2 separate regions of the Homo sapiens genome follow, and region 2 is linked to region 1. Evidence: fine-mapped expression QTL. A gene starts in region 1. The other region holds a variant in brackets. All regions are shown on one strand. Distances are between the middles of the regions.

Region 1 (15,696 bases):
TGAATGGAGGCCTGAACCCCCGTCGTCACACCCAGCTTCCAGCTGTCAGGGCGTCCAGGCCCAGCTCCTGGGTTCAGGGCTGAGGAATGGGTGCAGGGGAGTTCAGCGCTGGAGGGCCTCCTGGACAGGTCCCATTCATACCTCCTACCAGGCTTTCCCTACAGGGTGGGGGATACAGACGATGGGGCCCCTGAAAGACAGGGAGATGGCAAGGATGGGGGGTGTGGGAGGACCCAGGCTCTTGGGTGAGCAGCCGTGACCCTCTCCAGTCACCTTGGCGCTTTCTCTGCAAAGCCACCTTCCTCAGAACAACTGGAACCCACCGTCACGTTCCTGTTTACACTCCTGAACACCTCTGAGCCCACTGAGCCAAAAGACCCTGAATCGTAAGGCTGCATGAGAGAGAGAGAGAGAGAGAGAGTGCCCATGCAGGCACATGCAGGCACGCACAAAACTGGGGGAGGTGGATGGTGTTTCTCCCCACCCCACACCCAGAAACATTCAAACCTGGGCTAGGACTCAGTCCTGGCCCGTGCAGAGAGGAGGCCCAGAGAGGCCTGCTGAAGCCGGGGCCTTTGGCTGGGCACCCCCACACCACCCACCCACTTCCCTCATCCCCTAGACCCTCTGGCCTGACCTTCACTACCCACTTGCTCCAGGGACTCGGAGATCCAGGAGTACCAGTTCTTAGATCAGGAGGACTGGGGCCCCCAGCGGACCTCAAAGGAGATCAGGCAGTTGCAGAATGACTGCATGAGGTGATCTGGGCGGGCAGATGGGAGCGGGTAGGGTGACAGGGCTTCCCCCGACCAAGGCCAGGCCTGGCTTTCAGGTCAGGGCCCACGTGGCTGGTGAACGGGCATTCAGGAACCCCCACCTTTAATTGTCCAAGAACTTGAGGAGCGTTCAGTCTGGGGGAGGGGCTTGTTCTCTGGATGTCGGGCTCTGGAGCTGGGGTCCACACAATCCCATGGCCGCTCGCCCCTCTCAGGTAATGCTGGGGTCAGAGCCCCATCTGTCAGCAAAGGTCCTGAGGTGGGGGCAGGGCATGACGGAGGCTTCCAGGCCATAGACCTGAGTGATCAGCTCTCCCATTCATACACAGCTGACCTGGAGCGCCTAGGCAGGGCTGGTTCCAGCATTGGCCCTGTCACTGGCCTGGAGCCACAGAGAATCCTGTTGCAACCCTGCCTACAGCCCAAAGGAGCGGCTAGCCCTATACCACCCACCCCTTCCAAGGGGAGCCTCAGAGGGTTTCTAGCCCACCCACAGAAGCAGCCTGCCCTGCTCTTGCAAAGGAAGACAAAAAGCATAATTAGTCTCTCTCTCGGTCCCCTGCTACCAATCACTCAGGGAGAACAATTCCCATCCCACCTGTGGTTTTGCCGGGACAGGAAGACTGGGCTCTTACTGAAACACTGGTCCCAGGTGGCTATAGGACCAGGTGGCTGAAGCAGGAGGTGGGAGGGGTGGGGAGTGCTGCCTGGAACAAAAGCCTGGCTGAGGTGGGAGGGGTCTGTTTTTCAACCCTAGGCTTCGGGAGTCACTGAACACCACCCAAGTGCACAACCTGGCCCTGGGGGAGAAGCTGCAGAACCTGGTAAGACCCTGAGCCAGGACCCCATTTCTTTGTCTTGCCTCCTCCCTGCCTCCCAGCCCAGCTCTCCTAGAGGGGCTTCGGGTTGTCCTGCATGGCTGGCTACCCACCTCGAGCCCTGCAACCCTTTGTCCAGCCCACCTTATTGTATAAGAGCCTGAAGGAGGGAGCCCAGGCCATCCAGGAGGAGGCCCAGGCCATCCAGGATGAAGTGAAGGCCCTGCAGGAGGAAAGCCAGGCCCTGCCGGAGGTGGCTCTGCTCAGGTGTGCGGGCAGCCATGGCAGCGGGGAGGGAAGAGGCGGCTGCCCCATGCTGCTCACTCGAGCTGTCTCTGCCTGCAGTGACCCAAACCCCCGGAAGGCAGGTCTCCTCTTCAAGCTGCCTGACCTGCCCCACGACCACAGAGACCAGGGTCAGGCCTGGCCAGGCCCCAGGCCAGAGGTCGGACACCTCCTCGGGAGGCCGCTCCTTCAGCCAGCTCCTCCCTAGATCCCAGAAATAAACTTGGAAGCTAAGCTTCAGCTTCACCAAGTGTCTGTGGGCCCTGGGCTCAGGTGGGGAGCAGGAGGTCACCACGTCCACACTGAGCTCAGCCCCTCAGCCACCCTCTGACATCACCCCCACTCCCTCAGCTCACCCATTCTGCATCTACCCCTCCCCGACATGGCCCTGCCCTCCCCCGACCCCTCACAGAAGGTTCCAGGCCTGGTTGTTGTCAGCCTGGAGATGAGAGCTCAAGGGCGATGTTCCCAAGATAAGCACTGGGGTGAGGCCAGAAAGGGGCCGCAGTCCCTCCCCGGAGGATCTGGGTACCTGCTCTAACTCCAAAGTGCAGAAGGATACTGGGGTGTAGGCGGGGGAGGGATAGGGGAAGAGCCACTAACCATCTGGTGACCTTGGAAAAGTCCCTTCCCCTTTGTAAGTCATGGGGTTGGGGGGCAGAGAGAGGTGGTGGCAACTCCCCAAGGGCCCGCATCCTATACCCCTCAGGCCTGGAGATACATATCGATTTTGAGTTTCACCTCCAACCCAGGAGCCCTCTGGCCCAGGGCCTCCTGGGAGCCCCCAACCCCCCTCCACCAATGGGGTTGCAAAAAAGAATACAAAAAACTGACACGTATATAGTCAAGGGGGAGAAAGCAAGGAATCCTGATAGAAGATTGCTAAATTACATACAAAATTGGTTAATATTCTAAAGGGCATTTATTTTTAAAATCCCATAACCCGGGCTGGTCACAGTGGCTCACACCTGTAATCCCAGCACTTTGGGAGCCCGAGGTGGGCAGATCACCTGAGGTCAGGAGTTTGAGACCAGTGTGGCCAACATGGGAAAACCTGGTCTCTACTAAAAATACAAAAAGTAGCCAGGTGTGGTGGCACGTGCCTGTAATCCCAGCTACTTGGGAGGCTGAGGCACGAGAATCACTTGAATCTGGGAGGCTGAGGTTTCAGCGCACCAAGGTGGCACCACTGTACTCCAGCCTGGACGACAGAGCAAGACACTATCTCAAAAAAAAATTTTTTTTTTAATTTAAAATAAAATAAAAAGTCCCATAACTCTAAGGCTTGTATTATTCACTGGGCAGAAATCATTTTGCATCTTAATCAGTTTTCTGTAAAGTAACCTCTAACTTTACAGCATCTAGGTCTAATGGATGGTAAAAGATCCACCATGCAGAATTCCTTCGTTAATCCTCGTGTGACACGGAACGGGCTGGGGATGATCATTTTGCCTTATGTTCACTGTAGGGAGACAACAGCCAAGAGGATGGAAATTCAGGTTTGTGGCTTCTCCCCAGGCCTGGTTTGACTTACACCAGACTCCTAGGGATCAGGCCTGGGCAAAGTAACTGATGAAGTGCTTGATTAGTGACTATTTGATTCTGCCCCAGCTTCAGGCTGAATTGAGCTGAGCTAACATCTCTTTTCTTCATATTTTTACATTTTATTTTTATAAATAGAGACAGGGTCTTGCTATATTACTCAGGCTGGTCTCAAACTCCTGGGCTCAAAGAATCCTCCCGCCTCAGCCTGCCAACATGCTGGGATTACAGGCATTAGCTACCGCTCCCAGACTAACATCTCTGACTTAGCAGCCCACCCCTTCTGAGACTCTACCCTCCTCACCCGATGGCTGTAGGGATCCCAGACCTCCCCAACCACCTACTTCCTGACCTGTCCTTGACCAGGGGCCCTGCTGTACAAACAGCTGTCTTGCAATTTTCCCAAAGGGAATCATAGGGTACTGAGGTTGATGGTAGTTGGATCAACAGCTAAATCAATTACCCATTTAAGGACTTCTGTCAATAAGATGCAGTCATCAGCATGGTCCCATTTGATGTTTCCTTTAAAAGGACACAGAGAGAGACTAATTATGCTTTTTTTTTTTTTTTTTTTGCGACAGAGTCTTGTTCTGTCGCCCACGCTACAGTGCAGTGGCGCAATCTCAGCTCACTGCAACCTCTGCCTCCTGGCTTCATGCCATTCTCCTGCCTCAGCCTCCCGAGTAGCTGGGACTACAGGCACCCGCCACCATGCCTGGCTAGTTTTTTATATTTTTAGTAGAGACGGGGTTTCACCGTGTTAGCCAGGGTGGTCTCGATCTCCTGACCTTGTGATACACCTGCCTCGGCCTCCCAAAGTGCTGGGATTACAGGTGTGAGCCACTGCACCCGGCTAATTATGCTTTTATTTAATTATGTCTCAGCCTGGGACAGCGCTCGAATAAGGTTACATGAATACTGCTTGGCTGCAGGAAATGGAGTCTATTACGGAGCCCCCTCCCCAACCAGCTCCAAACCACAGAAGTGCTTATAGATTCGAATGCATCCTGGCCATGGTTCTGCAGCTCAGGGATCCTTCACTGGCTGTCCTGAGGTCAGTCCCTGCAGCCACTCCTGTTGACACTGCATCCAAGCAGTCCCAGCCCAGCCCAGAGGTTCCTGTCAAGGAAGGTCCCACAGCAAAGCTGCGTGGGCCCCAGGGTGTTACCTGGTCCTTTCATTCACACACATTTCTCCCAGTCAAAGGAGGCTACCATGTGAGTCACAAGCTGTGCCCACACCTCCTGGGCCTCTGTCATCAAGGCACTGGGCTTGGGTTAGCAAATCAGCCTCCTCTGTCTGGCTGGCACCATTTCTCTAGTGAGGGGCAGAATGGGATGCCTCTCTCCTGCCTAGTGATGGCAGGTGGGATAGCTTCGTGAATGTGCAGGCGCTGCATTCTACTCTCAGCTCCACCCCTTGCTGTCTGGTGTGACCTTGACTGAGTGCCTGGACACACATCTTCATCTGTAACATGGGGTTCCACTGTGTCCACCTCGGAGGATGAATGATTTTGTGTGGACTTGGTGCATTCCATGTGTTGGCGACTGTTATCTGATCTCCAGTGGATCTACCCTGGCCCCCAAACTGGCTTTGCAGGCCCAGTGGGAGCAGCTCTGAGTACCAGTGTTCCCAGCAGGCTCCCTTCCCCACTAAAGGGCCTGGTATTCCTGCCCAAGAGGGTGGCCAGACCCTGCAGCCTGGCAGGGCCTTCCTCCATCCTGCAACGTCATCCTTTGGGAACACCCAGCACTGAAAGTCTGTTAGATCCCATCCCCATCTTGTGAGGGCACCTGCGCCTGTTACGCAGGTGTCCTATGCATGGCTGCCTTGGCAGTCTGGTGGGGCTTACCCAGAGGGGATCTGCTTCCCAGGGGTCTCGTGCCCACCTTTTACATCTCTTATTGCTCTGAACACCCCTTGGACAGAAGACAGCTGGAGCAGGAGTGTTGAGTTGCTGTGCTGGCGTAGGTCAGCTTTGCCTCCAATCTACAAATACTTGTTGAGTGCCTCATAGGTGCCGGGCACTGCTCTGGACTCTGGGGCTTCGGCAGTGAATAAAACAAAGATGTCTGCCCTGGTAGAACTTACGCTCTGGGAGGGGCAGCAAGAAATAATGAACAAGTAACATGAGGATAGATGCAATGGAGAAAAATGAAGCCACAGAGGAAGAGGAAGCCTGAGGGAGGGGGAGGAATGCAATTTTATTTTATTTATGTATTTTTAAACATGGATTCTCACTATGTTGCCCAGGCTGGTCTTGAACTTCTGGACTCAAGCGATCTTCCTGCCTCAGCCTCCCAAAGTGTTGGGATTATAGGTATGAGCCACTGCACCCAGCCAGGAATGCAATTTCAGATAGAGTAGTCAGGGAAGAGCTCATTGAGAAGTGACATTTGAGCAAAGACACAAAGGACCTGAGGGAAGGAGCCCTGTGGACAGCTGGGGAGCAGGGTTCTAGGGAGCGGGAGCTGCCAACACAAAGGCACTGAGTCAGGAGTGTGCCTGGTAGGCTCAGGGGACAGTAGCAGGCCAGAGCTACAGGAGCCGTGAGTGAGGAGGACAGGGAGGGGACCGGGTCTGAGACATGAAGGGCTCTATGGCCACTGTCATGACTGTTACTCTGAGTGTAAAGGGAGACTTGGAGGGCTGTGAGCACGGTCGTGACATGGCGGACCTGGGTTTCACAAAGATGAGTCTGACTGCTATGTAGAGAAAAAAACTAGAGGGGACAAGAATACAATCAGAGAGGCCAGTTAAGAGGCCACTGCAGGCTGGGCACGGTGGCTCTCGCCTGTAATCCCAGCACTTTGGGAGGCCAAGGCGGGCGGATCACCTGAGGTTGGGAGTTTGAGACCAGCCTGACCAACATGGAGAAACCCTATCTTTACTAAAAACACAAAATTAGCTGGGCATGGTGGCGCATGCCTGTGATCCCGGCTACTCAGGAGGCTGAGGCAGGAGAATCACTTGAACCTGGGAGGCAGAGGTTGCGGTGAGCCGAGATCGCGCCATTGCACTCCAGCCTGGGCAACAAAAGCGAAACTCTGTCTCAAAAAAAAAAAAAAAAAAAAAAATTAGGCAGCTGGAAATACAAGAGTTCGGGGATGGGTTAGATTGGAGACATATACTTGCGGGTTTCTGGTCTATATTTAGTCATTTGTATTGGTTCTCCATTTTGCTGTGGTTTTTTTTGTTTTTTTTTTTTTTTTTTCTTGAGACGGAGTCTCACTCTGTCACCCAGGCTGGAGTGCAGTGGCGCTATCTCGGCTCACTGCAAGCTCTGCCTCCCAGGTTCACGCCATTCTCCTGCCTCAGCCTCCAGAGTAGCTGGGACTACAGGTGCCCGCCACCACGCCCGGCTAATTTTTTTGTATTTTGAGTAGAGACGGGCTTTCACCATGTTAGCCAGGATGGTCTTGATCTCCTCACCTCATGATCCGCACGTCTCCGCCTCCCAAAGTGCTGGGATTATAGGCGTGAGCCACCGCGCCTGGCCTATTTTGCTCGGTTATAATCACTCCAAAACCTAGTAGCCCAAAACCATAAACATGTATTATCTCACACAGTGTCCACAGGTTAAGAATCTGAAAGTGGCTTGGTTGGGTGGTACTGGCTGAGGGACTCTCGTGAGGCTGCAGTCAAGATTCCAGCAGGGGCCGCTGTATTCTGACGGCTTGGCTGGTGCTGGAGGACCCATTTCCAAGTTGGTTTATTCACAGGGCTGGCAAGTTAGTGCTGAATGTTGGCAGGAGGCTTTAGCGCCTCACCATGAGGCCTGTCCACAGGGCTGCTTGAGTGTCTTCACAACATGGTGTCCGGGAGGCCACGTGACTCTGCAGGCACATCCAGGGGCAAGGGTGCAGGCGCAGAAGAAGCAGAAAGTGAGTCAGAAGTAACCAGAATGGTGTTTTCCCAGTGGATGTGACCAAAGCAGAGAGGATTGGGGGTTAAGAGGGCTTCCAGGGCCTCAAACTGGGCAAGGTGAGTACACGTGGGAGGTGAAGGAGGGTGGGACGGAGGCAAGTGTGTGGGGCAGGTGGAGAGTGGGGAGGGAGCCAGCAGCAGTGCATTGCTGGTCCTGGAGGATTGAAGACCCCTTGGACCCAGAGCCATTGGGAGAATAAGGCAGGAAAATGAAAGGTGTTCATGTGCTCTAACTACCGTAAGTTATTTCTAGGAACTCCCACAATCCAGAATGTTCTGGGAGGGGCCATACCACCCACACAGCAAAGATGAAGGAAAGAAAATTGACTAAGTTAACGTCTGGTGCCTACAGCCATGTAGACACCAGTGGATTCCAACAGCCTGAGTGGATCTCTTGGGTGTCACACACACAGCTGTTTACACACTCTCCAACACAAACCACAGTCCCAGGTGTTATCACTCAGATGTCACACACTTTTGTCCAGGCGTCCTGTTTGTGACTTCACATGATTGAGGGGTTAAATCCTTCCAGGAGTGGGTGGGGTAGGACCATGGGGTTGCTGCCTCAGTCCCTCAACTTATCAGCTGACCTTGGCATCCCACTCCCCACCTGGTGGTGACTGTCCTGTGTCCTCATAAGGAAGGTGTATGCTCCCTGCACCGATGGGCTTCTGATAAGATCCAAGGTCATATTCTGGGCGTCGATAATCACGTTGCCAAGAACTGTGGCTTCCTGGTGCACCTCCCTGAAGTCACTGATCACATGACATCCCTTCCCAGCCACCCCTAGTCCTCCCATGCTGAACCTCCTCACCAGCAGCACAAGAGATGGTGGTGCCAGCAAAATGGGGTTGTGAGCAGGAAGGAGGCTGCTCTGAGAGGGGTCTGTGAAATCACACACACACACATGCACGTGCACACACACACACACACACACACACGCTCTGCCCTGATCCAGCCCCCAAGCTCTGCAGGCATCTTTGAGCCCATCCATGGGCTGCAACCTGCGAGGCAGAGTCAAGGCAGGATAGGCCATGGGAGGGTGGGAGAAGTCCCAGCTCAAGTCCCTAGGGACCCCCCCAGCCCCTCCTGGCTCTCCGTGAGGTCTGGAAGAGGCTCAGTATGTGTATGGCATACTTGGGGTCTCACTTCCCTCTCAGCCCTTGCAAATGCTGGAACACCTTTTCAGCCTTGGAGGACCCCCTCAGATGTTCCCTCCTAGTCAGAACTCCTCACTCTTTCACTGGGAGCATGGTGATCCTCCCTCTACAGGGCACTTACCACATGGCTGAACCTAAAGCCTGTCTGCCTCGCCTGCTGGATTTTGCTTCCCCACAGCCTTGCATGGCTCTAGTATAGCACAGAATGAACAGTGCTTGCATGTATAAAGGAAGGAATGAATAAGTGAATGGAGGGATGGGTGGATGGATAAATAGGAGGGTGGATGACGGAGTCCAGGCAGAGCCAGGGGATAGAAGAGGAAGTCACCTCGCCAGGGAGGCATGGGCTTCCCCTGCTGCCTCCTCTGGGACAGCCTCCCTTCCCAGGACTCCCATTCCTCGTATCGCTGGGCTCCCTTCAGGATAGACACAGAGAGTTCTTCTGGGTCCTCCTTCTTCCTTTAGCTCTAGGCCTTACATTTTCCAGAGTCAGATGAGGGATGAGTAGTTAAAATTGATGAGCTCCCACTACATGTCAGACACTGCACTAGCTATTTCTACAGATGCCATATTGTTTAATGAAAATGACACCATAGCCGGCACGGTGGCTCACTCCTGTCATCCCAGCACTTTGGGAGGCTGAGGCGGGTGATCACCTGAGATCAGGAGTTTGAGACCAGCCTGGCCAACATGGTGAAACCCCATCTCTACTAAAAATACAAAAATTAGCTGGACATGGTGGTGCACACCCGTAATCCCAGCTACTCGGGAGGCCGATGCAGGAGAATCACTTGAGCCCGGGAGGTGGAGGTTGCAGTGAGCCGAGATCACACCACTGGACTCCAGCCTGGGTGTCAGTGGAAGACACAGTCTAGAAAAAAAAAAAAGAAAACAGGTGTAGAGAAGCTGAGTGGATTGCCCAAGGTCACACAGCTTACGTCCAGCAAGAAGGGGGATCTCAACTCAAAATCTGCTCAGGCAGGTAGGGCTGGGTATGCTGTAGATCGGCTGCCTTGGAGGGAGGCAGAGGCAGTGAGGGTGGGCAGTGGGCACGGCCCTGCTGTGAACACAGGAGCTCTGAGTTCCAGCCCTGGCTTGGCCTCTGTTTTCCTGGGACACCCTGGATGAGCCCCTTCCCTCTCGGCTTCAGTGTCCCTGGGTGACCTTGCTGCCCTTGGAGAGCCATTCCAGGCAAATGGTGCAGGATGTGGTGGATGTGGATGGCTCCTGGCTCTCACTGCGGGATGTTCCCTCACTCTCCCTGCCAGCTGGGGGTCAAAGGGCAGTGCCACCCATGGGGTAATGTTTAACCAGGCACAACACCCCCTCTATAGGGAATAACCTATAGACCAGTCCTACCCCAGCTGGCCAAGAGTCCGCAGGATGCAGTGGACGAAGGTGTTGGGGCTGGGGCTGGGGGCTGCTGCCCTCTTGGGGCTGGGGATCATCCTCGGCCACTTTGCCATCCCCAAAAAAGCCAACTCACTGGCCCCCCAGGACCTGGACCTGGAGATCCTGGAGACCGTCATGGGGCAGCTGGATGCCCACAGGATCCGGGAGAACCTCAGGTGAGAAGTGGGGCCATCTGCTCCTCCGTTTGCCAGAGGCCCCCTCCCTGATGCTGGCCCTGCCCCTCCCTCTGCCCACCCTGCAGAGAACTCTCCAGGGAGCCACACCTGGCCTCCAGCCCTCGGGATGAGGACCTGGTGCAGCTGCTGCTGCAGCGCTGGAAGGACCCAGAGTCAGGCCTGGACTCGGCCGAGGCCTCCACGTACGAAGTGCTGCTGTCCTTCCCTAGCCAGGAGCAGCCCAACGTCGTGGACATCGGTGAGGTCCTGCCCAGTCTTGGGAATGCCCGGGGGTGGGGAGCTGCTGGGCCCAGCCATGATACTGCCACCCCTCCAACAGTGGGCCCCACTGGGGGCATCATCCACTCCTGCCACCGGACTGAGGAGAACGTGACCGGGGAGCAAGGGGGGCCAGATGTGGTACAACCCTATGCTGCCTATGCTCCTTCTGGAACCCCACAGGTGGGCCCAGAACCCCCCCTACTGCTCTGGCCCAGCTCCCTTGGTTCCACCCAGGGTTCTCCCCACCCTGACCCAGGGAACGTGCCTCAACTGGGGCACAGCGCGCCCTCCGGAATTTACTCACCGGGACACTCCATCGCTGCTCCTTTCCTCCATCAGTCATTCAACAAACACTAGTGGCTCTGCTCAAGGCCAGGTCTGTTACAGGGCACCCAGACATGGAGGAAATGAGGGGTGACTGTTCTTGGGGAGCTTACAAGCTCTGGGTGAGGTGGGGGAACAGAATCTAAATTCTCCCTCCTGCCATGCAAACTTCCACCCCCCTTCCCCACCCACACTTCGCTGGGCCCAGCTCTAAGGATCACCCCCTCTTGGGACTAGGGCCTCCTCGTCTATGCCAACCGGGGCGCGGAAGAAGACTTTAAGGAGCTACAGACTCAGGGCATCAAACTTGAAGGCACCATTGCCCTGACTCGATATGGGGGTGTAGGGCGTGGGGCCAAGGTGAGTGGCAGTCCCCCAGTGCAGGAGGCCTCGGTGAGGAAGGGGCTGGGCAGTGGACTGGAGGAAGTGAGGGGAAGGGGAAGGAGAAGAGGCAGTGTTGAGTGGGGAACCAAGCCCCAGGGTGGGGCAGGAAAGGCAAGGTGTTTTCGGGTTGTCCCACCAATGGGCTGTGTGGCCTCGGATGCCTCCCTGACCCTCTCTGAGCTGTAGGAAATAAAGGGGTTGAGTACAATTTTCAGGTTTGGTATTCCAGAAGTCTAAGTCCTCCTGTGAAATAGTTTTGAATATTCAACTTAAGTCCCTCCTGTTGGCCCTCTCCCTGCCATTTCTTTTCCATCAAAAATTCTGACTAGGGGCCGGGCGCTGTGGCTCACGCCTATAATCCCAGCACTTTGGGAGGCCGAAGTGGGCAGATCACCTGAGGTCAGGAGATCAAGGCCAGCCTGGCCAACATGGTGAAACTCCATCTCTACTCAAAATACAAAATTAGCCACACATGGTGGTGCATGCCTGTAATCCCAGCTACTGGGGAGGCTCAGGCAGATGAACTGCTTGAACCTGGGAGGCAGAGATGGTAGTGAGCTGAGATTGCACCACTGCACTCTCCAGCCTGGGAGACATCGAGACTCTGATTTAAAAAAAAAAAAAAAAAAAAAAAGGCTGGGCATGGGCGTGGTGGCTCACGCTTGTAATCCTAGCACTTTGCGGGGCCAAGGCAGGCGGATTGCCTGAGTTCAGGAGTTCAAGACCAGCCTGGGCAACACGGTGAAACCCCATCTCTACTAAAATACAAAAAAACAAAAATTAGCTGGGTGTGGCAGCGTGCACCTGTAGTCCTAGCTACTCAGGAGGCTGAGGCAGGAGAATTGCTTGAACCCAGGAGGTGGAGGTTGCAGTGAGCCAAGATTGTGCCACTGCACTCCAGCCTGGGTGACAGAGCGAGACTCCATCTCTAAAAACAAAAAACAAACAAACAAACAAAATTAATATAAAAAGAGTAGAATGAGAGAGGGGAAGGGATAGTTGGTATTTAATGGGGACCGAGTTTCGGATTTGTCAGATGAAGAGTTCTAGAGATGAATGGTGGTGATGTTGCACAATATGGATGTACTGAATGCCACTGAACTGCATACTCCACATGCTAAGTTTATGTTATGTGTATTTTACCACAATTTTTTTAAAAGTGGGCTGGACGCGGTGGCTCATGCCTGTAATCCCAGCACTTTCGGAGGCCAAGGCAGGTGGATTACCTGAGGTCAGGAGTTCGAGACCAGCCTGGCCAACATGGTGAAACCCTGTCTCTACTAAAAATACAAAAAATAGCCGCTCATGGTGGCAGGCACCTGTAATCCCAGCTACTCAGAGGTTGAGGCAGCAGAATCACTTGAACCCAGGAGGCAGAGGTTGCAGTGAGCCGAGATCATGCCATTGCACTCCAGCCTGGGGGACAAGAGCAAGACCTCATCTCAAAAAAAAAAAAAAAAAGGTGTCCATAATAAGAGCTGGGAAAAGAGAAAGAAAGAAGGAAGGTGGAGAGAAAGGAAGGAAGAAAAGAAAGGGAAAAAAGGAAAAGAAAAAGAAAGGGGAACAAGCAGTGTAGAAATACACAGATTATTAATTAACCATCACCACTACCCATTTCCAGAACCTTTTCATCATTTCAAACAGAAACTTTATTTAACAATAACTCCCCAGGTCCCTGCCCCAGCCCCTATTCTATTTTCTGTAACCTCAATTCTACTTTCTGTCTCTATGAATTTGCCTATTCTAGGTACCTCGCATAAGTGAAAGTATAAGATATTTGTCTTTTTATGTCTGGCTTATTTCACTTAACATAACATCTTCAAGGCTCATTGATGTATCAGAACTTTCTTTCTTTTTAGGCTGAATAATATTCCATTGTTTTTTGTTTGTTTGTTTGTTGGGGTTTTTTTGAGACAGAGTCTTGCTCTGTCACCTAGGCTGGAGTGCAGTGGCATGATCTCAGCTCACTGCAACCTCCACCTCCCAGGTTCAGGCGATTCTCGTGCCTCAGCCTCCCAAATAGCTGGGACTACAGGTGTGTACCACCACACCTGGCTAATTTCTGTATTTTTAGTAGAGACAAGGTTTCACCATGTTGGCCAGGCTGGTCTTGACCTCAGGTGATCTACCTGCTGGTCTTGACCTCAGGTGATCCCACCTCAGGTGATCTGCCTGCCTCAGCCTCCCAAAGTGTTGGGATTACAGGCGTGAGCCACCCCACCCGGCCTCCATTGTATGTTACAGCCCACATTTGGTTTAGCCATTCATCTGTTGATGGACACTTGGGCTATTTCCTCCTTTTGGCCGTTGAGGATAATGCTGCTGTGGACATGAGTACACAACTGTGTTATTTTATGCAGCTTCATGGTATTCCACTGTAGGATGTCCCTGTTATTCAACCAGACTCCACTGATAGGCACGGGCTTGGCTGTGCCGAACTGGCCTTTACTGTTGCAAGAGGCACTGCCATAAATGACTTGTGCAAACGTCATCTTGCCCATGGAAGATTGGTCTATCCTGGCTTCCACAGTCGAGGAAGGAGGAAGAGGAATAGGACATATCTGGTCCCGGTCCCTCCCTTACACACAGCCTCCTCTGCCCACTGCAGGCTGTGAACGCTGCCAAGCACGGGGTAGCTGGGGTGCTGGTGTACACAGACCCTGCCGACATCAACGATGGGCTGAGCTCACCCGACGAAACCTTTCCCAACTCCTGGTACCTGCCCCCCTCAGGAGTGGAGCGAGGCTCCTACTACGAGTATTTTGGGGACCCTCTGACTCCCTACCTTCCAGCCGTCCCCTCTTCCTTCCGCGTGGACCTTGCCAATGTCTCCGGATTTCCCCCAATTCCTACACAGCCCATTGGCTTCCAGGATGCAAGAGACCTGCTCTGGTGAGTTTGTGCCCTGGGGTGTCCTGCCCAGCCCCAGTGGCCTCCAGACTTCAAGCCCCACACTCACATTTACCCTGAAGGGCCTCTTCCTCCTCCCCAGTAACCTCAACGGAACTTTGGCCCCAGCCACCTGGCAGGGAGCACTGGGCTGCCACTACAGGTTGGGTCCCGGCTTCCGGCCTGACGGAGACTTCCCAGCAGACAGGTGAGATGCAGCCAGACCAGGTCTCCCTCAGTTGCCCTCTCCCCCAACTCGCCTCTCCCCTTCCCTTGTGATGATGTTCCCTCTTTCCACTTCAAAGCCTGACCTTTTTCCCTTTCCTCTCTCTCCCAGACCCTCTCCTGACCCCAAAATATGTCTTGTTTTTGGGGAAGCCCGTGAAACAGCTGCTGCTGTTTCCTGTGGGGATTCCCCTGCCCCTCCCACCTCATCTTGACGTCTGTAACTCACGACTCCCTCTCTTGAAGATGCCAAGCTCCTTCCCAAATCAGGGCCCCTGCCACTCCCAACCTGCACCAACCTCCCTCCCTACAGCACCCACTGGCCTCCAGGTGCCCTCTCCTCCCAGGCCCCTTCACCCAGCTGTTCCTGTCCTCCTGGTCTGTCTCACTCAGGAGAGGGAGGCCCCACGAGAACCAGGTCCACATCTGTCACCGTCATTGCCCAGAGACTAGTCAGGGACTAAGTACCCAATAAGTACCTACCCAGCGAGTAGGCAGGAGAGCCTGGCTCCAGCCTTGCTGCCTCTCTTGGTACTTCGGGGCCAATGAATGGCCTTGCCACGTCACTTTCCAGCTCCGGGCCTCAGTGTCTCCTGCACTGGGTCGGGGGCAGTGGGCAAGGCCAAGAGTCTTCTCACACCCTTCACCCTCCCCAGCCAGGTGAATGTGAGCGTCTACAACCGCCTGGAGCTGAGGAACTCTTCCAACGTCCTGGGCATCATCCGTGGGGCTGTGGAGCCTGGTGAGCCCTCCTCTTGCTGCCTGCACCCCAGGCCCCTGCTCTGCTCTGGATGCCGCTGTCCTCATCCAGCCCTGCCCTTGCCACCACCCAGCCCAGCTCCCCCTGCCCACCTCTCCCTCTCCTCTGGTTCTCTGCCCCTTTTCCTCTGGCCAGATCGCTACGTGCTGTATGGGAACCACCGAGACAGCTGGGTGCACGGGGCTGTGGACCCCAGCAGTGGCACCGCCGTCCTCCTGGAGCTCTCCCGTGTCCTGGGGACCCTGCTGAAGAAGGGTGAGGCGGCCCCCTCCCCTGGACCAGGGACCTTCGCCCCCGGAGGTCCCCTTCCTGTTCCACCTCCTCTCCCTCACACTGCAGTGCTCCTTGTGCCATGCCTGAGGGCCCTGGGGGCAGACATGCATGACACCAGCCTTGGCCTGCAGCAGCCCAGTGTGGTACAGGGAATAGACTGTGGGTTGATTCATGTGCCGCTTCCAAGTGCCTCCCGTGTGCCTGGATGGAGCAAGGCCCGATGCTGCTGTGAAGCAGGCAGCGCCCAGGCTCTGCCCTCCGGGAACTTTAGCTCAGCTGGGTCAGGGACGGCAGCCGATTGTTAACTCTGATGTCTCTAATGTCTTGTGTGCCTTTGACATGGCAGGCCAGGTTGGGACAAGTCTCTCAGTGGAGGCAGCACTTCAGCGTTTCAGTGCTTCAGGGAAGGAGAGGAGGGCAAGGAGGTGGCAGCCAGAAAGGAGGTGGACAGGGCTGGGCGAGGTGGCAGAGCAGGCAGGGCCA
Region 2 (15,696 bases), 29 kb after region 1:
GCTGGGCGTGGTGGCACGTGCCTGTAATCCCAGCTACTCAGGAGGCTGAGGCAGGAGAATGGCTTGAACCTGGGAGGTGGAGGTTGCAGTGAGCCAAGATTGTGCCACTGCACTCCAGCCTGGGCGACAGAGCGAGACTCTGTCTCAAAAAATAAAAATAAATAAATAAAAATAAATAAAAAATAAAAATTCAAAAATTAGCCAGGCATGGTGGTGGGCGCCTGTAATCCCAGCTAGTCGGGAGGCTGAGGCAGTAGAATCACTTGAACCTGGGGGGCGGAGGTTGCAGTGAGCCGAGATTGTGCACTCCAGCCTGCAACAAGAGCAAGACTCTGTCTCAAAAAAAAAAAAAAAAAAAGAGGAAGAAGAAAACTGAGGCCACAAGAGGTTAAAAACAACAACAACAAAAAAACAGAAACAAAAATCTGCCCAGGTTACACAGCTGGTCAGTGAGGAGTAAAAGGGCTCCTGATCCGTGATTTGCTTGTTTTTTTGCTCCCTTCATCACTGCCCCACCTGGGACCCAGGCCTGACCCTCCACCCTCAGTCCCTACTCACTGGGGACTCCCTGAAGCAAGACGTGCACGCCGTCTCGATAGCCCTGGAGTGCAGCAGCGTAAGCGCCTGCCTTCTCATCCCGCAGGGCCTGGGTGATGAGCTCTGTGGCCTGGCTTAGGTAGGCAGGGGTGGGCCCTCCTTCCCCATCCTCTTCCTCCTCCTGCCCTCCTGGCTCCCAGGGTTCCTGGTCCAGCCTTGCAGACTCCACCTCCATCGTTGCCAGCTCAGCCACATGGGTGGGGCTGGGGGCTGCGCCTTCTGCAGTTAGAAAGGGAGGACTCGGACCAGACTGGCCCTTCCTTTCCCAGGCCCTCTGCCCAACCCCAAGACTTCTTTTGTCCATCAGGGTATCAGCCTGTCCCCAGTAGAGGGGACCAATGCCAGAGCAATCCAGAAGTCGTCTGTGGATCAAAAACTAGCCATGAGCTATTTGATCGATAGGGTTCATGTGCTTCTGTAAAAACAGCCTTACCTTCCTAATTATGTCTTTAGGTACACACTCTAGTTTGTAAGCTCTGGGTCACTGGTCCTATTTCCCTCTTGACTCCAGTTGACCTAGAAATCCAAAAATCCCCTCCAGAAAGTTTCCCTGAAGGATGCTAGGCCACCACCACCAGGCTGAGGGTAGAAATGCTCCAAGACTTGGAATAATCTTAGAATAGGAGACTTAGAGAATCTCAGGGGTTTTCTGAAGCCTTGCAGTTTCAGCTGAGGCCCCCAAATGTAAAGACAGTGAGTGACAGGTGTCCTCACATTTCCCAGGTAAAGGCTCATTATATCCCCCTGGACTGGCTAAAAGGGGGTCGGACATCCTACCTGCAGCTTACACACGAGGCGACTGGAAATCTGGTGCACCTTTGGTGAAAAGGCCTCTGAGGGGAAGGTGCGGGGGCAGGAAGCATCATGATACCCTATCATCCTGGAGAGGGAAAAAGTGGGTGCCTCTCTAACCCCATCCCTGTGAGTTCCATGAGAGCCCTGAGAAGTCCGGGCCTCCTGCAGGAGGGAGAAGGCACCTCCTGGCTGGGCCTACAGCCCTCCATGTATTGCTCAGGGAGCAGAGAGCAGAAGAGTACCTGGGACACCTGCACACTCGAGTTAAGGAGTTTGCTGTGAAGAAGGGAGACACAGGTGCCCACTCCTTGCCTCGAGAATTCTGGTGGTGAGAGGCTTGTTGGAGGTGCCCACCATGGCAGGGTAGGGAAATAAGGCAGTGTCTGAGCACACTGCAGTTCCAGGCTTTGGGGACTTTTCCCATGGGCTGAGTGAATGTCTCATTGGAGCTGTCTGTGAAGGGTCTTGAAAAGATCCTGGCTGGACACAGTCACTCATGCCTATGATCCAGCACTTTGGGAGGCTGAGGTGGGAGGACTACTTGAGTCCAGGAGCTTGAGACCAGCCTGGGCAACATAGTGAGATCTCATCTCTACAAAAAATCAAAAACTTAGCTGGGCATGATGGTGCATGCCTGTGGTCCTGTCCCAGCTATTTGGGAGGCTGAGGTGGGAGGATCGCTTAAGCCTAGGAGTTGGAGGCTGCAGTGAGCCGTGATCGCACCACTGCCCTCTAGCCTGGTGACAGAGCCAGACTCTGTCTCAAAAAATAAATAAAAAAAAATAAAAAAATTAAAAAGGAGAGGAAAAAAAATAGAAAAGCTCCTGCCCAGGCAGCTAGCTGCCCAGCAGGGACTCAGCTGGCACAAGGACAGAGCACTTGGATGCCTGCCACCCAGAGGCCAGGCATAACAGCCCTGTGACACCAACATTGCCTTTCCCTCCCATTCCTTCTTCCCACTCCCCAACCCTGGAGAGGCAGGAGCAGGAACGGGAGGAGGCAGAACAAGAAAAGTGAAAGAGGCAGGGCATTTTGGCTCACGCCCGTAATCTCAGCACTCTGGGAGGCGGAGGCAGGTGGATCACTTGAGTGTCAGGAGTTTGAGACCAGCCTGACCAAAATGGTGCGACCCTGTCTCTACTCAAAATACAAAAATTAGCCAGGCGTGGTGGCGCGCGCCTGTAGTCCCAGCCACTCAGGAGGCTGAGGCAGGAGAATCGCTTGAATCCGGGAGGCGGAGGTGGGAGTGAGCTGAGATCGCGCCACTGCACTCCAGCCTCGGCAATCCAGAGCAAGACTCGATCTCAAAAAAAAAAACGGGCCAAGCGCGGTGGCTCACATCCGTAATCCCAGCACTTTCAGAGGCTGAGGCGGGCGCACCACCTGAGGTCGGGAGTTTGAGACCAGCCTGACCAACATGGAAAAATCCCATCTCGACTAAAAATACAAAATTAGCAGGCACCGTGGTGCGCGCCTGTAGTCGCAGCTACTCAGGAGGCTGAGGCAGGAGAATCGCTTGGACCTGGGAGGTTGCAGTGAGCAGAGATTGCGCCACTGTACTCCAGACTGGGCGACAAAGTGAGACTCTGTCTCAAAAAAAGAAAAAGAATAACAGACATGGACTCTTGCTATATTGCCCAGGCTGGTCTTGAATTCCTGGGCTCAAGCAATCTTCCTGCCTCAGCCTCCCAAAGTGTCGAGATTACAGGTGTGAGCCAATGTGCCAGGCGTTGGCAAATTTTAGAATGAAAAACTCCAGTGTCTCAGAGCTTGGGACTGTCGAGTCCCAGGATCTCACAGCAAGAAGGTGCCCAGGACCCTGACCTCCATTGGGGGGGCCCTTCTACCTCCAGCATCCCCAAATGCCAGTGGCTCCAGGCCCCCAGAGGGATTTCCCTTTGCAGCTGCCCTTTGAGCTGAGAACTCACTCCCATTGACCAGCAGGCCTCTTGCCTTCAGGATCTGCAGCCAGACCCTGGCCAGTCAGGAAATCCCACCAAGAGCTTGCAGGGAAGGAACTAAAATGTCCCAGAGCAGTGTGACCCGGCTCTTTCCAAAGCCTTCTCAGTGAGATGGCCCCAACATGGGAAGTGCCTCCTTTCCTTCCTCGTGGCTATTTGTTGCACAGGTGCATCCAGCACACCACACCACGTGCCCTGGCACAGGGCTTCTAATTCTCATTGAAGCTGCTATTGGCCCACAGGGCAGCACTGCTGAGGAGACGTCTCTCCCTGATCTGCGCAGGCACTGAGCAGGCTAGTGGGGCTCTGCCCTCCTCCCTGTCCCAAGGACGTCCTGCCCTGGCTCCTTCCCGGCTGTCCCAGCTCATTACCTTCCTTGGAGAAGGGGTCGAAGAGGGCAAGCTCAGCCTCGGTGAGGGGGCCTCGGGCAGGGGAACCAGATGCCTCCTCGGTGCTCTCACAGTTAAAGAGGAGATCCAGGGCCTCCTGGGCAGGGCTGGATGGTGGGGGGTCCACTGAGGAAGAGATAAGTGGGGTCATGAATACCTGCGTTTATTTCTCAGCTTTCAAAATAGAATTACTCTCTCCTTAAACCCTTGCAGCAACCATGGGCATAGACAAGCCTGTTATTAGGGTTTGTGCTCATTTTACAGATCAAGAAACTGTAGCACAGAGAAGGAAAAGGACCTGCCCAAAGTTCCTCAGCCAGTTAAGTGATAGACCTGGGACACACACACATTTCTCAGTAAGATCACTGAGGAGGGAGTGTGGCCGCCCTCCCCACTCTGCACCCTCCAGCCCTGGTTCCCTCCTCCCACCCCGATGTACCTGGCACCTCCAATTCCTCGAGGCCCCTCCTTTCTGCAGGGAGCAGTTGGGATAGCCGGGGGTCATCAGGGGGCGGGGTGGGGATCAGAGGGGGTGGCAGGATGTGTAGGTCCCTGGACACCTCCAAGGGTCGGGTCACCTCCCCACCCTGCAGGACAGAAAGATCAGACATGGGGAGTCATGGGGTGCAATCTGGTGGGTGGGTAAGTGGCCCAAGTTCTGGGAAGGTGGAAGGTGCACATACCCGGAAGAACTCCTTGAGCTGGGGGCTGTTGTTGAGCGCAGGTATGTGCACAGTGAAGCGAAGCAGGTCCTCTGCCCCCTTTCGCCGCTCCTCGATCACTGAGGCTTCAAACCGGCCTACGGCCCCCAGGACAAGGAACAGGGGAGAGTGGCGGTGACCCACAGGGGCTTCTGCCCCAAGGCCACTTTTCCTGGTCCTGCCTGAGATGCTCTGAGCAACTCACTGCCCTCCTACCCATTCTCCCAGCAATCTGCCCTGGTTCCTCCTGGGGTGAGGTAGGGGCTTCCAGGAGGGATCAATTTCCCTATTCATTCATTTGCCAGATGTTTACTGAGCACCTACTATATGCTAGACTCAGAAGGTGAACAGGGGAGGAACCAGTCTCTGCCCTTGTGAATATCATATCCTACCCAGGGGGAGCTAGGCAGTTAACAAGAAACAAAAGCATTTCTGATGGCTTTGATCTAATGAGAAAAGTAAGGCTCAGAGAGGGAAAGTGACTTGCCCAAGGTCACAAAGCAAGGAGCCCCCGTTTATTTTTTGAGAAAAGGACTGGCTGTGTTACCCAGGCTGGTGTGCAGTGGCACGATCTCAGCTCACTGCAACCTCTGCCTCCTGGGATCAAGCCGCCCTCCCGCCTCAGCCTCCCAAGTAGCTGGGACTATAGGTGCACACAATCATGCCTGGCTAATTTTTGTATTTTTTGTAGAGATGGGGTTTTACCATGTTGCCCAGGCTGGTCTTGAACTCCTGAGCTCAAGTGATTACCTTGCCTTGGCTTCCCAAAGCACTGAGATTACAGGTGCGAGCCACAGTTTCACTGCTCTGTCCTAGGTATTTTGCAGAGCAGGCTAACTCTGGTCCAGTTACTGTGCGGCCAGTCTGTGGTACTTCCCCACTGGCCTGGCATAACCTGACAGCAGCAATCCTTTACCTTGCTTCAAAAGAACATCTCGGCCAGGTGCGGTGGCTCACACCTATAATCCCAGCGTTTTAGGAGGCCGAGGCAGGTGGATCACTTGAGGTTAGGAGTTCGAGACCAGCCTGGCCAACATGGTGAAACCCTGTCTCTACTAAAAATAAAAAAAAATTAGGTGTGGTGGCGCACACTACTTGGGTGGCTACTTGGCTATTTGGGAGGCTGAGGCAGGAGAATCGCTCAAACCTGGGAGGCAGAGTTTGCAGTGAGCTGATATCATGCCACTGGACTCCAGCCTGGGTGACAGAGTGAGACTCTGTCTCAAAAAACAAAAACAAAAACCAATAACAAAAAAGAACATCTCACATGAGTATGCAGACCCAAGCAACTGGTCAGCACTGTCTAATACAGATATGAGCTACATATGCAATTTTAAATTTTCTAGCAGCTAGATTAAATAATAGGAAAAAAGAAACAATTTTTTTTTTTTTTTTTTTTTTGAGACGGAGTCTCACTCTGTCGCCTGGGCTGGAGTGCAATGGCACACTCTTGGCTCACTGCAACCTCTGCCTCCCAGGTTCAAGCGATTCTCCTTCCTCAGCTTCCTGAGTAGCTGAGATTACAAGCACTTGCCACTACACTCAGCTAATTATTTGTATTTTTAGTAGGGACGGGGTTTCACCACGTTGGCCAGGCTGGTCTCAAACTCCTGATCTCGTGATTCGCTTGCCTCGGCCTCCCAAAGTGCTGGGATTACAGGTGTGAGCCATCACACCTAGCCACAAGTTAATTTTAATATTTTATTTAACCCAATATATCCCAAATATTCTCATTGCAACATGTAATCAATATACTAAGTATTGAGATGGGCCGGGTGCAGTGTCTCACGCCTGTAATCCCAGCACTTTGGGAAGCCAAGGCGGGCAGGTCAGCTGAGGTCAGGAGTTCAAGACCAGCCTGGCCAATATGATGAAACTCTGTCTCTACTAAAAATACAAAAATTAGCCAGGCGTGGTGGTGCACACCTGTTATCCCAGCTACTGGGGAGACTGATGCAAGAGAATCCCTTGAACCTGGAAGGTGGAGGTTGCAGTGAGCCAAGACAGCGCCACTGTACTCCAGCCTGGGTGACAAAGTGAGGCTGTCAACAACAACAAAAAAGAAAAAGGAAAATAAAATGGAGCTGATAAAGACAGGATTTTTTTTCCTTTGAGATGGAGTTTTGCCTTGGCCTCCCAAAGTGCTAGGATTACAGGCGTGAGCCACACGCCTGGCCCAACAGGAATGTTAAAAGGTGAAATACACAGTAAGGGTTAGGCTACTCTGAGCCTCAGTTTCCCCATCTGTCAAATGAGGTCATCTCTAAGGGCCCTTCCAAACATGACTCTGCCCAGGGTTTCAGGCCCTCTCTATCCAGCCCCCACTGGCGGAGGTCCCCTTTTGCCCAATGCTCCCTCCATCTTTGGCCCGAGTGCCCCAATCTAACACTCACCAAACACCTGGGCCCGGGGGAAAGC[A/G]GGGAACTCCTCGAGGCGGCGGAAGAGGTTGCGGTGGGTGTAGGCCAGGTCTCCATGCAGCTTGCGGAAGTCGCTGTACCGCTTCCAGACCACCACCTATGAGGTACATGAGACTTGCCCAGAACCAGCAATGGTGGGAGGCAGCCGCCCCCATGCCTAGCCTGCCCCCAGGGGGCGTGAGGATCAGGAAGCAGCTGCAGCAGCCCCTCGCCCAGGGACAGGGAGGAAGGAGGGCCGATGTCCAAGCAGAGTTACCAGCTGCCCCTTGACAGTTTCCAGATCTGGAACTGCAGAACAGTCCCTCTTCCTCCCAGGAGCCTCACCTCTTTGACATCCTCTGGGTCCTTCTTTGAGATGAACTGAGAAAGAAAGGCAAGAGCTGGTTGAGACCAGAGACTGCCATCTGACACCCTCTCACCCTGTAATGCCCCAGGTGCCTCCTAGTCCCCCTCACGGGGCAGTAGCCTTTGGCCATTGGCCTCTGGCATCAAGGCACCCTGGCTTTAAGCCTTCGCGTGTAATTTTAGCAACTTTTCCTACTATGTACCTCAGTTTCTCCATCTATCAAATAGGAGGACCCCTAAAGGCCCATTTGGACTGCTCCAACCTCAGCCCAACTTTTTTTTTTTTGAGATGGAGTCTCGCTCTGTCGCCCAGGCTGGAGTGCAGTGGTACACTCTCGGCTCACTGCCACCTCTGCCTTCAGGGTTCAAGCGATTTTCCTACCTCAGCCTCCCAAGAAGCTACAGACATGCACCACCACGCTTGCTAATGTTTGTATTTTTAGTAGAGATGGGGTTTCCCCATGTTGGCCAAGCTGGTCTGGAACTCATGACCTCAAGTGATCCGCCCGCCTCAGCCTCCCAAAGTGCTGGGATTACAGGCGTGAGCACCCGGCCATCAGCCCAATTTTTATCCCAGTTCCTTGAACAGACCAAGTCCCTCCATCTACTTCTGAAACCAAAGAACCCCAAGCCTCCAAAGAAGGGAGGTTCTGCCTCAGGAACCTCCTTCCCTGCGGGAGAAGATCCTGCGCTTCAGCGCCCTGGACACAGAAGAAACCATCACTGGAGTTGAAGTCCCTGGAAGGGCAGACTTGGGTCTGAGGTGAAAACAAGATTCAGTTTTCATCGTTATGTTCATAATAATTTTAAAATAATGTCCTATGGTTTGGGGTACTTGACAGTTTAATAACATCTCCTATGCCAGGCACGGTGGCTCACACCTGTAATGCCAGCACTTTAGGGGGCCCAGGTGGGCAGAGCACTTAAGTCCAGGAGTTTGAGGCCAGCCTGGGCAACATAGTGACACCCAGTATCTGCAAAAAATACAAAAAATTAGCTGGGTGTGGTGGCGTGACACACCTGTAGTCCCAGCTACTTAGAAGGCTGAGGTGGGAGGATCACTTGAGCATGTTAAGCAGAGGTTGCAGTGAGCTGAGATTGCACCACTGCACTCCAGCCTGGAGAGAGTGAGACCCTGTCTCTCACACACTAAATAAATAAATAAAAACATCTATTTCTTATCCTAGATCCCACTGAGGCAGACATAATTGACATGCCCACTTAAGAGATGAGGAAATGGAGGCTCTGAGAGGTGTGGCCATAGTAGACCACACACTAAGTAAGAAAGATGGCTGGGACTAAAACCCTGGACTTTGCTTTTGACAACAGAGACTTGCCTAAAATATTCTGGTAAAAGAAACTATTTAAAAGCCATTGAGTGGCCAGGTGTGGTGTCTCATGCCTGTAATCCCAGCACTTTGGGAGGCCGAGGTGGGAGAATCACTTGAGGTCAGGAGTTCGAGACCAGCCTGGCCAACCAACATGGTGAAATCCTGTCTCTACTAAAAATACAAAAATTAGCCAGGCGTGGTGGCAAGTGCCTGTAGTCCCAGCTACTCAGGAGGCTGAGGCAGGAGAATCACTTGAACCCAGGAGGCAGAGGTTGCAGTGAGCTGAGATCATGCCACTGCACTCCAGCCTGGCAACACAGTGAGACTCCATCTCAAAAAAAAAAAAAAAATTATAGGCCAGGTACGGTGGGTCATGGTGGCCTGTAATCCTAACACTTTGGAAGGCCAAAATGGGAGGATTGCTTGAGGCCAGGAGTTTGAGACCAGCCTGGGCAACATGGCAAAACTCTGTCTCTACAAAAAAAAAAATTTTTTTTTGAGATGGAGTCTCACTCTGTCACCAGGCTGGAGTGCAGTGGTGTGATCTCGGCTCACTGCAACCTCTGCCTCCCGGGTTCAAGCAATTCTCCTGCCTCAGCCTCCCGAGTAGCTGGGACTACAGGTGAGCGCCACCATGCCCAGCTACGTTTTGTACTTTTAGTAGAGACGGGGTTTCACCATGTTGGCCAGAATGGTCTCGATCTCTTGACCTCATGATCCACCCGCCTTGGCCTCCCAAAGTGCTGGGATTACAGGCGTGCGCCACCACGCCCAGCCTCTACAAAAAATTTAAAAATTGAGCTAGGCGTAGTGGTACATGCTTGTAGTCCCAGCTACTCAGGAGGCTGAGGCAAGAGGATGGATTGAATGCAGGAACTTGAGGCTGCAGTAAGACGTGAATCATGCCACTGCACACCAGCGTGGGTGACAGAGCAAGACCCCGTCGCAAATAAAATAAAATAAAATAAAAATATAGGCCAGGCGCGGTGGTTCACACCTGTAATTCCAGCACTTGGGAAGGCCGAGGTGGGAGGATAACTTGAGGTCAGGAGTTCGAGACCAGCCTGGCCAACACAGTGAAATCCCGTCTCTACTAAAAACACAAAAAGTAGCCGGGTGTGGTGGCACACGCCTATAATCCCAGCTACTCAGGAGGCTGAAGCAGGAGAACTGCATGAACCCAGGAGGTGGAGGCTACAGTGAGCTGAGATCACACCACTGTACTCCAGCCTGGGCGACAGAGCAAGACTCCGTCTCAAAAAATATATACATACATATATTTATATATTATGTGCTTTATATTTTATATTTATTATATATAATACATTGTATTATATAATATGTATAAAAATATATCAAAGTAATGCATGTTGCTTGGTTTAAAAAGCCAATGGGAGGCCGGGTGTGGTGGCTCACACCTGTAATCCCAGCACTTTGGGAGGCCAAGGCGGGTGGATCATGAGGTCAAGAGATCGAGACCATTCTGGCCAACATGGTGAAACCCCATCTCTGCCAAAAAATACGAATATTAGCTGGGCATGGTGACGCGTGCCTGTAGTCCCAGCTACCTGGGAGGTTGAGGTGGGAGAATCTGAACCCGGGCGACGGAAGTTTGCAGTGAGCTGAGATCGAGTCACTTCACTCCAGTCTGGGCGACAGTGAGACTCTGTCTCAAAAACAAAACAAAACAACGACACAAAAAAGCCACTGGGAAGACTTATTTTTATTTATTTATTTATTTATTTATTTATTTATATTTTTGAGACGGAGTCTCGCTCTGTCTCCCAGGCTGGAGTGCAGTGGCACAATCTCGGCTCACTGCAAGCTCCACCTCCCGGGTTCACTCCATTCTTCTACCTCAGCCTCCCGAGTACCTGGGACTACAGGTGCACGCTGCCACGCCCGTAAGTTTTTGTATTTTTAGTAGAGATGGGGTTTCACCATGGTAGCCAGGATGGTCTCGATCTCCTGACCTCGTGATCCGCCCGCCTCGGCCTCCCAAAGTGCTGGGATTACAGGCGTGAGCCACCGCGCCCGGCCACCACTGGGAAGACTTATAATAAAAGGTTACAGTTCCTTGCCACATCCTCCCCACCCCAGCCCCACCTCCAGTCTATCTTCCCAGGGACAATCTATTTATTTGCTTTTTTTTTTTTTTTTTTTAAAGTTGTGTGTGTGTCTGTATTTTAATATTGATCCGGGGTCTCACTATGTTGCCCAGGCTCGTCTTGAGCTCCTGAGCTCAAGCAATCTGCTGCCTCAGCCTCCCAAAGTGCTGGGATTTACAGGCATGAGCCACTGAGCCCGGCCTTATTTGCATTATTTTTAGGCATGGAAAAGACGTAAACGGTTTGGGGAAAGCATATTTTAAATAGCTAAGATTCTGCACTTAGATCACTTTGGAAGTGTCCTTATGTGCCTGCTTTGCTTTTAGAGTTAACTAATGCACCAGCTTAATAGTCGCCTGGTTGAAAATTCTAAAAGTACAAAAAATTTACAGTAAAAAGTCTTCCCCTAACTCCTGTCCCCAGTGACACAGTTCCTCTCCCTGGGGACCTTCCTTGTTACCAGTTCTTGTTATCATTCTACAGGTGTCCTGTTTTACTGTTTCATTTTTAATTATTGTCATGGTTTCCTCCATGTCTCTCTATAAATTGTGCTTATGATGTTGTTATCGCTTCATATATCAACTCTAGCCTATCTATCTTCCTGCTGTGACCTTGATATGGCGACTTACTCCTTAAGTCCTTCTGAACTGCATCAATTTTTTTCAACCACTGATCAGTATTATTTTTTGAAAAATTAAAAATGGTTAAACTCGTTAAAGGGAGTTTATGTAACATCAAACAAACCAATAAACAAAACTTACTCTACGAGAATGGAGTACTAATATTTGGATTAAACCAGAGTTTTCATGTTAATTTAGAGAAATTCACAGCCTGATGCCCAGACACTACACTCCGGGCGTGGGCATACACGCCTTGCCTGTCCGGGAACGGCCGTCAACGCCCTTTTAAAAAAGACAGCGCCCACCCAGGACCCCGCCCCCTGGTGGTTAAAGATGTAAACTAAGCCTCGTACTGCAACCTCCCCTTAAAGGGGAAACCCATTTCTGTCGTCTAAAAAGGGAGCAGTGGCTGCACCGCCTTTCCTTAAGGTAAAACTCGGCGCCCCTCTAGTTAAAAGGGTAAAGTACGCGCTGGGCCCCACCTCACCTGCGCGGTTACTTTGTACTCGGTGTAGCCCTTGGGGTGAGTCCTGGGGTCCGACACTGTGTAGTGCCGCAGGAAGTCATCCTTCGCCTGGCGGGACATGAAACCGAGCTGGAGCGGAGCGGAGCGCCGGCCTCCACCTCCTCGCCGTCCCCACCCCTCCGGCCCAGCCTCCGCCCGCCGCCGCCTCGCCAGGCCTGCGCTCTTCTTCCTCTGGCCTAGGGATTTTGTCGCAAGTGACAGCGCTGTTCCGATCCCGGGTGCGCGGCCAAGGGAGCGTCTGAAAAGTTCCTTCTCTGTGGTGAAGCGTAAACCCAGGTCACTGGAAAGATTGGTTGGGAAGGCTGGGATCACTCGTCTCATTTCTGCCGGGTGATCAAGCCCACCCTATCCAAGCGTAAACCCTTGTCACAGACTTCCAAACGACTTCTCCCCGCTTCCTAAATCCCTGCTTTCGTTCATCCACCCAACTCTTATTGTGTCCAGTATGTACAGGACAACGTCAAATTATTTCCCTGTCTCCCTCCACAGGATTCCCTAATTCATGTTTTCTGGAAAGTAGAGGAAGCAAAGAAGGTTGGAGAAGCAGGATGGTGTCATGGGCTCTGAGTCACGACTCTTACTAGCTGTAGGAGTTTCCCTTAACTACTCAGCCTCAGTTTCTCATCTGTAGAATGGAGATGTTTATAATAGAATCTGTGTAGGGCAGTGGAGCTTTTTTGCGATGGGTTTGCTGCCAGAACACAGGTGTCGTGAAAACCACCGTTAAATCAAAGCCAAAATGGGGGTTTGGCGCGGTGGTTCACGCCTGTAATCCCAGCATTTTGGGCAGTGGAGGCAGGTGGATCACTTGAGGTCAGGAGTTCAAGACCAGCCTGGCCAACATGGTGAAACCCCGTTTCTACTAAAAATACAAAAATTAGCTGGGCGTGGTGGCGCACGCCTGTAATTCCAGCTACTCCAGGGGCTGAGCTGGCTGATGGCTTCAGCCCAGGAGGTTGAGGCTGCAGTGAGCTGCAATCACACCACTGCACTCCAGCCTGGGCAACAGAGTGAGACTCCATCTCAAAAGAAAGGGAGCAGGGGAGGGAAAAGACTCAGCTCAACATCATCATCTGATTTGGGCAAGTCCAGCACTACTGGCCATCTGATCTACAAGTGTGGTGGGATCCACAAAAGAACCATCGACAATTTTGAGGAAGCTGCTGAGATGGGAAAGGGCTCCTTCAAGCATACCTGGGTCTTGGGTAAGCTGAAAGTTGAACGTGAGAGTGGTATCACCACTGATACCTCCCTGCTGGCAATTGAGACCAGCAAGTACTATGTGACCATCCTCAATGGCCCAGGATGCAGAGACTTTATCAAAAACCTGACCTCAGGCTAATTGTGCTGTCCTGATTGTTGCTGCTGGTGTTGATGAATTTGAAGCTGGTAATTCCAAGAATGGGCAGACGCGTGAGCACACCCTTCTGTCTTACACGCTGGGTGTGAAACTAATTGTTGGTGTTAACAAAATGGATCCCAATGAGCCACCCTAAAGAGGAGAGATGGGGGCCGGGCGTGGTGGCTCACGCCTGTAATCCCAGCAGTTTGGGAGGCAGAGGTGGGTGGATTAGGAAGTCAGGAGTTCAAGACCAGCCTGACCAAGATGGTGAAACCCCGTCTCTACTAAAAATACAAAAATTAGCTGGGCATGGTGGCGGGTGCCTGTAATCCCAGCTACTTGGGAGGCTGAGGCAGAGAATTGCCTGAAACCAGGAGGCAGAGGTTGCAGTGAGCTGAGATCGTGCCACTGCACTCCAGCCTGGGAGACAGAGGACAGAGTGAGACTCCGTCTCAAAAAAAAAAAAAAAAAAAAAAGGAGAGATGGGAGAAATCATTAAGGAAATCAGCACCTACATTAAGAAATTGGCTACAACTCTGACATAGTAGTATTTGTGCCAATATCTGGTTGGAGTGGTCACAACAGGCGGGAGCCAAGAGCTCACATGCCTTGGCTCAAGGGATGGAAAGTCACCTGTAAAGATGGCGATGCTGTGGAACCACGCTGCTCGGAAGCTCTAGATCACATCCTACCACCAACTCACAAGCTCTTGGTTCTGCCCCTCCAGACGTCCACAAAATTGGTGGTATTGGTACTGTCAGTGTGGGCCACGTGGAGACTGGTGTTCCCAAACCTGGCATGGGTTTTGAGACCTTTGCTCCAGTCAGTGTTAGAATTGAAGCAAAAATCTGTTGAAATGCAGCATGAAGTTGGTAGGCTTACATACAACACATAGTATTTACTGCAGAGGAAGCATTGTGAATAGCCACTCTTGTTCCTGGAATTCAGGTGTACAGGTGCGGTGCCTTGGTCTTCAGAAAGAAGCAAAGCCTGGCATGGGGCTCATGCCTGTAATCCCAGCACTTTGGGAAGCCAAGGCGGGAGGATCACTTGAGGCCAGGAGTTCAAGACCAGCCTGGGCAACAGGCTGCCTCTGATTTCATGAGAAATTTAAAAATTAGCTGGGGGCCAGGTGCAGTGGCTCATGCCTGTAATCCCAGCACTTTGGGAGGCCAAGTCGGGCGGATTACTTGATATCAGGAGTTCAAGACCAGCCTGGCCAACATGATGAAACCCCATCTCTACTAAAAATACAAAAATTAGCCAGGTGTGGTGTCGGGTGCCTATAATCCCAGCTACTCGGGAGAATGGGGCAGGAGAGTTGCTTGAACCCGGCAGGCAGAGATTGCACTTAACCTTCTGGAGGAAATGTCATCCAGGAGCCAGTCAATGCCAGGCAGTGGGTTCTCCCCAGCAGTGGGGCTGCAGCCCTTGACGTACCAGTGGTGGCTGCAGAGAGTCCAGATGCAGGGCTTGGGAGAACAAAGGTGCTGGTGGTGGCCAGTGACCGCAGACCCTTCCCTCCCTGCTCAAGGGTCAGCCCATCCAGGAAGCCTCCCCGGCCCCTGGGAGAGCTTATCTGTTCCCCGGGGCACCTGAGCTCTCTGTACAGTGCCACGCCAGTGCCACCCCTTAGTGTCCCATATAAGAGAGGATCCTGATAGGCGGCACTGCATAGGGCTGTCCCTAACTGTATTGCTGAATGGAATGGGTAGTACTTAGAACAGTGTAGGGAAAAGAGAGATCAGACTGTTACTGTATCTATGTAGAAAGGGAAGATAGAAGAAATTTCATCTTGACCTGTACCCTGAACAATTGCTTTGCCCTGAGATGCTGTTAATCTGTAACTTTGCCCCAGCCACTTTGCCCCAACCCCTTTGCCCCAACCTTGAGCTCACAAAAACATGTGTTGTATGGAATGAAGGTGTTTTTTTTTTTTTTTTTTGAGATGGAGTCTCGCTCTGTCGCCCAGGCTGGAGTGCAGTGGCGCCATCTCGGCTCACTGCAAGCTCCGCCTCCTGGGTTCATGCCATTCTCCTGCCTCAGCCTCCCGAGTAGCTGGGACTATAGGCGCCCACCACCACACCTGGCTAATTTTTTGTATTTTTAGTAGAGACGGGGTTTCACCGTGTTAGCCAGGATGGTCTCAATCTCCTGACCTCATGATTCGCCTGCCTCGGCCTCCCAAAGTGCTGAGATTACAGGCGTGAGCCACCACGCCCGGCCTTGGAATCAAGGTTTAAGGTCTAGGGCTGTGCAGGACGTGCCTTGTTAACAAAATGTTTACAGGCAGTATGCTTGGTAAAAGTCATCGCCATTCTCTAGTCTCAATAAACCAGGGGCACAATGCACTGTGGAAAGCTGCAGGGACCTCTGTCCTGGAAAGCCGGATATTGTCCAAGGTTTCTCCCCATGTGAGAGTCTGAAATATGGCCTCGTGGGATGAGAAAGACCTGACCGTCCCCCAGCCCGATACCCATAAAGGGTCTGTGCTGACGTGGGTTAGTAAAAGAGGAAAGCCTCTTGCACTTGAGATAGAGGAAGGCCACTATCTCCTGCCTGCA

What was found.
Region 2: its variant is fine-mapped to the expression of NAALADL1 in whole blood (TOPMed, PIP above 0.99).

What each region holds. Positions count from the first base shown.
Region 1 is chr11:65,052,717-65,068,412 of GRCh38, reverse strand. NAALADL1 (N-acetylated alpha-linked acidic dipeptidase like 1) reads left to right here and starts at 9,860. Exons shown (of 18, transcript NM_005468.3): 1 at 9,860-10,076; 2 at 10,163-10,335; 3 at 10,417-10,538; 4 at 10,920-11,042; 5 at 13,675-13,958; 6 at 14,059-14,163; 7 at 14,837-14,922; 8 at 15,076-15,195. The coding sequence starts at 9,892. It also overlaps a transcript of CDCA5 not described here. RefSeq lists a silencer at 1,362-1,656.
Region 2 is chr11:65,023,692-65,039,387 of GRCh38, reverse strand. It overlaps SNX15 (sorting nexin 15), which reads right to left and starts at 11,949. Exons shown (of 8, transcript NM_013306.5): 1 at 11,752-11,949; 2 at 7,185-7,220; 3 at 6,837-6,957; 4 at 4,426-4,541; 5 at 4,182-4,329; 6 at 3,725-3,868; 7 at 559-816. The coding sequence starts at 11,850. It overlaps ARL2-SNX15 (ARL2-SNX15 readthrough (NMD candidate)), which reads right to left. Exons shown (of 11, transcript NR_037650.2): 4 at 11,752-12,070; 5 at 7,185-7,220; 6 at 6,837-6,957; 7 at 4,426-4,541; 8 at 4,182-4,329; 9 at 3,725-3,868; 10 at 559-816. It also overlaps the pseudogene EEF1A1P18. RefSeq lists enhancers at 339-458, 529-578, 11,837-12,131 and a silencer at 11,818-11,987. The variant A/G (reference allele first, on the strand shown) is at 6,862.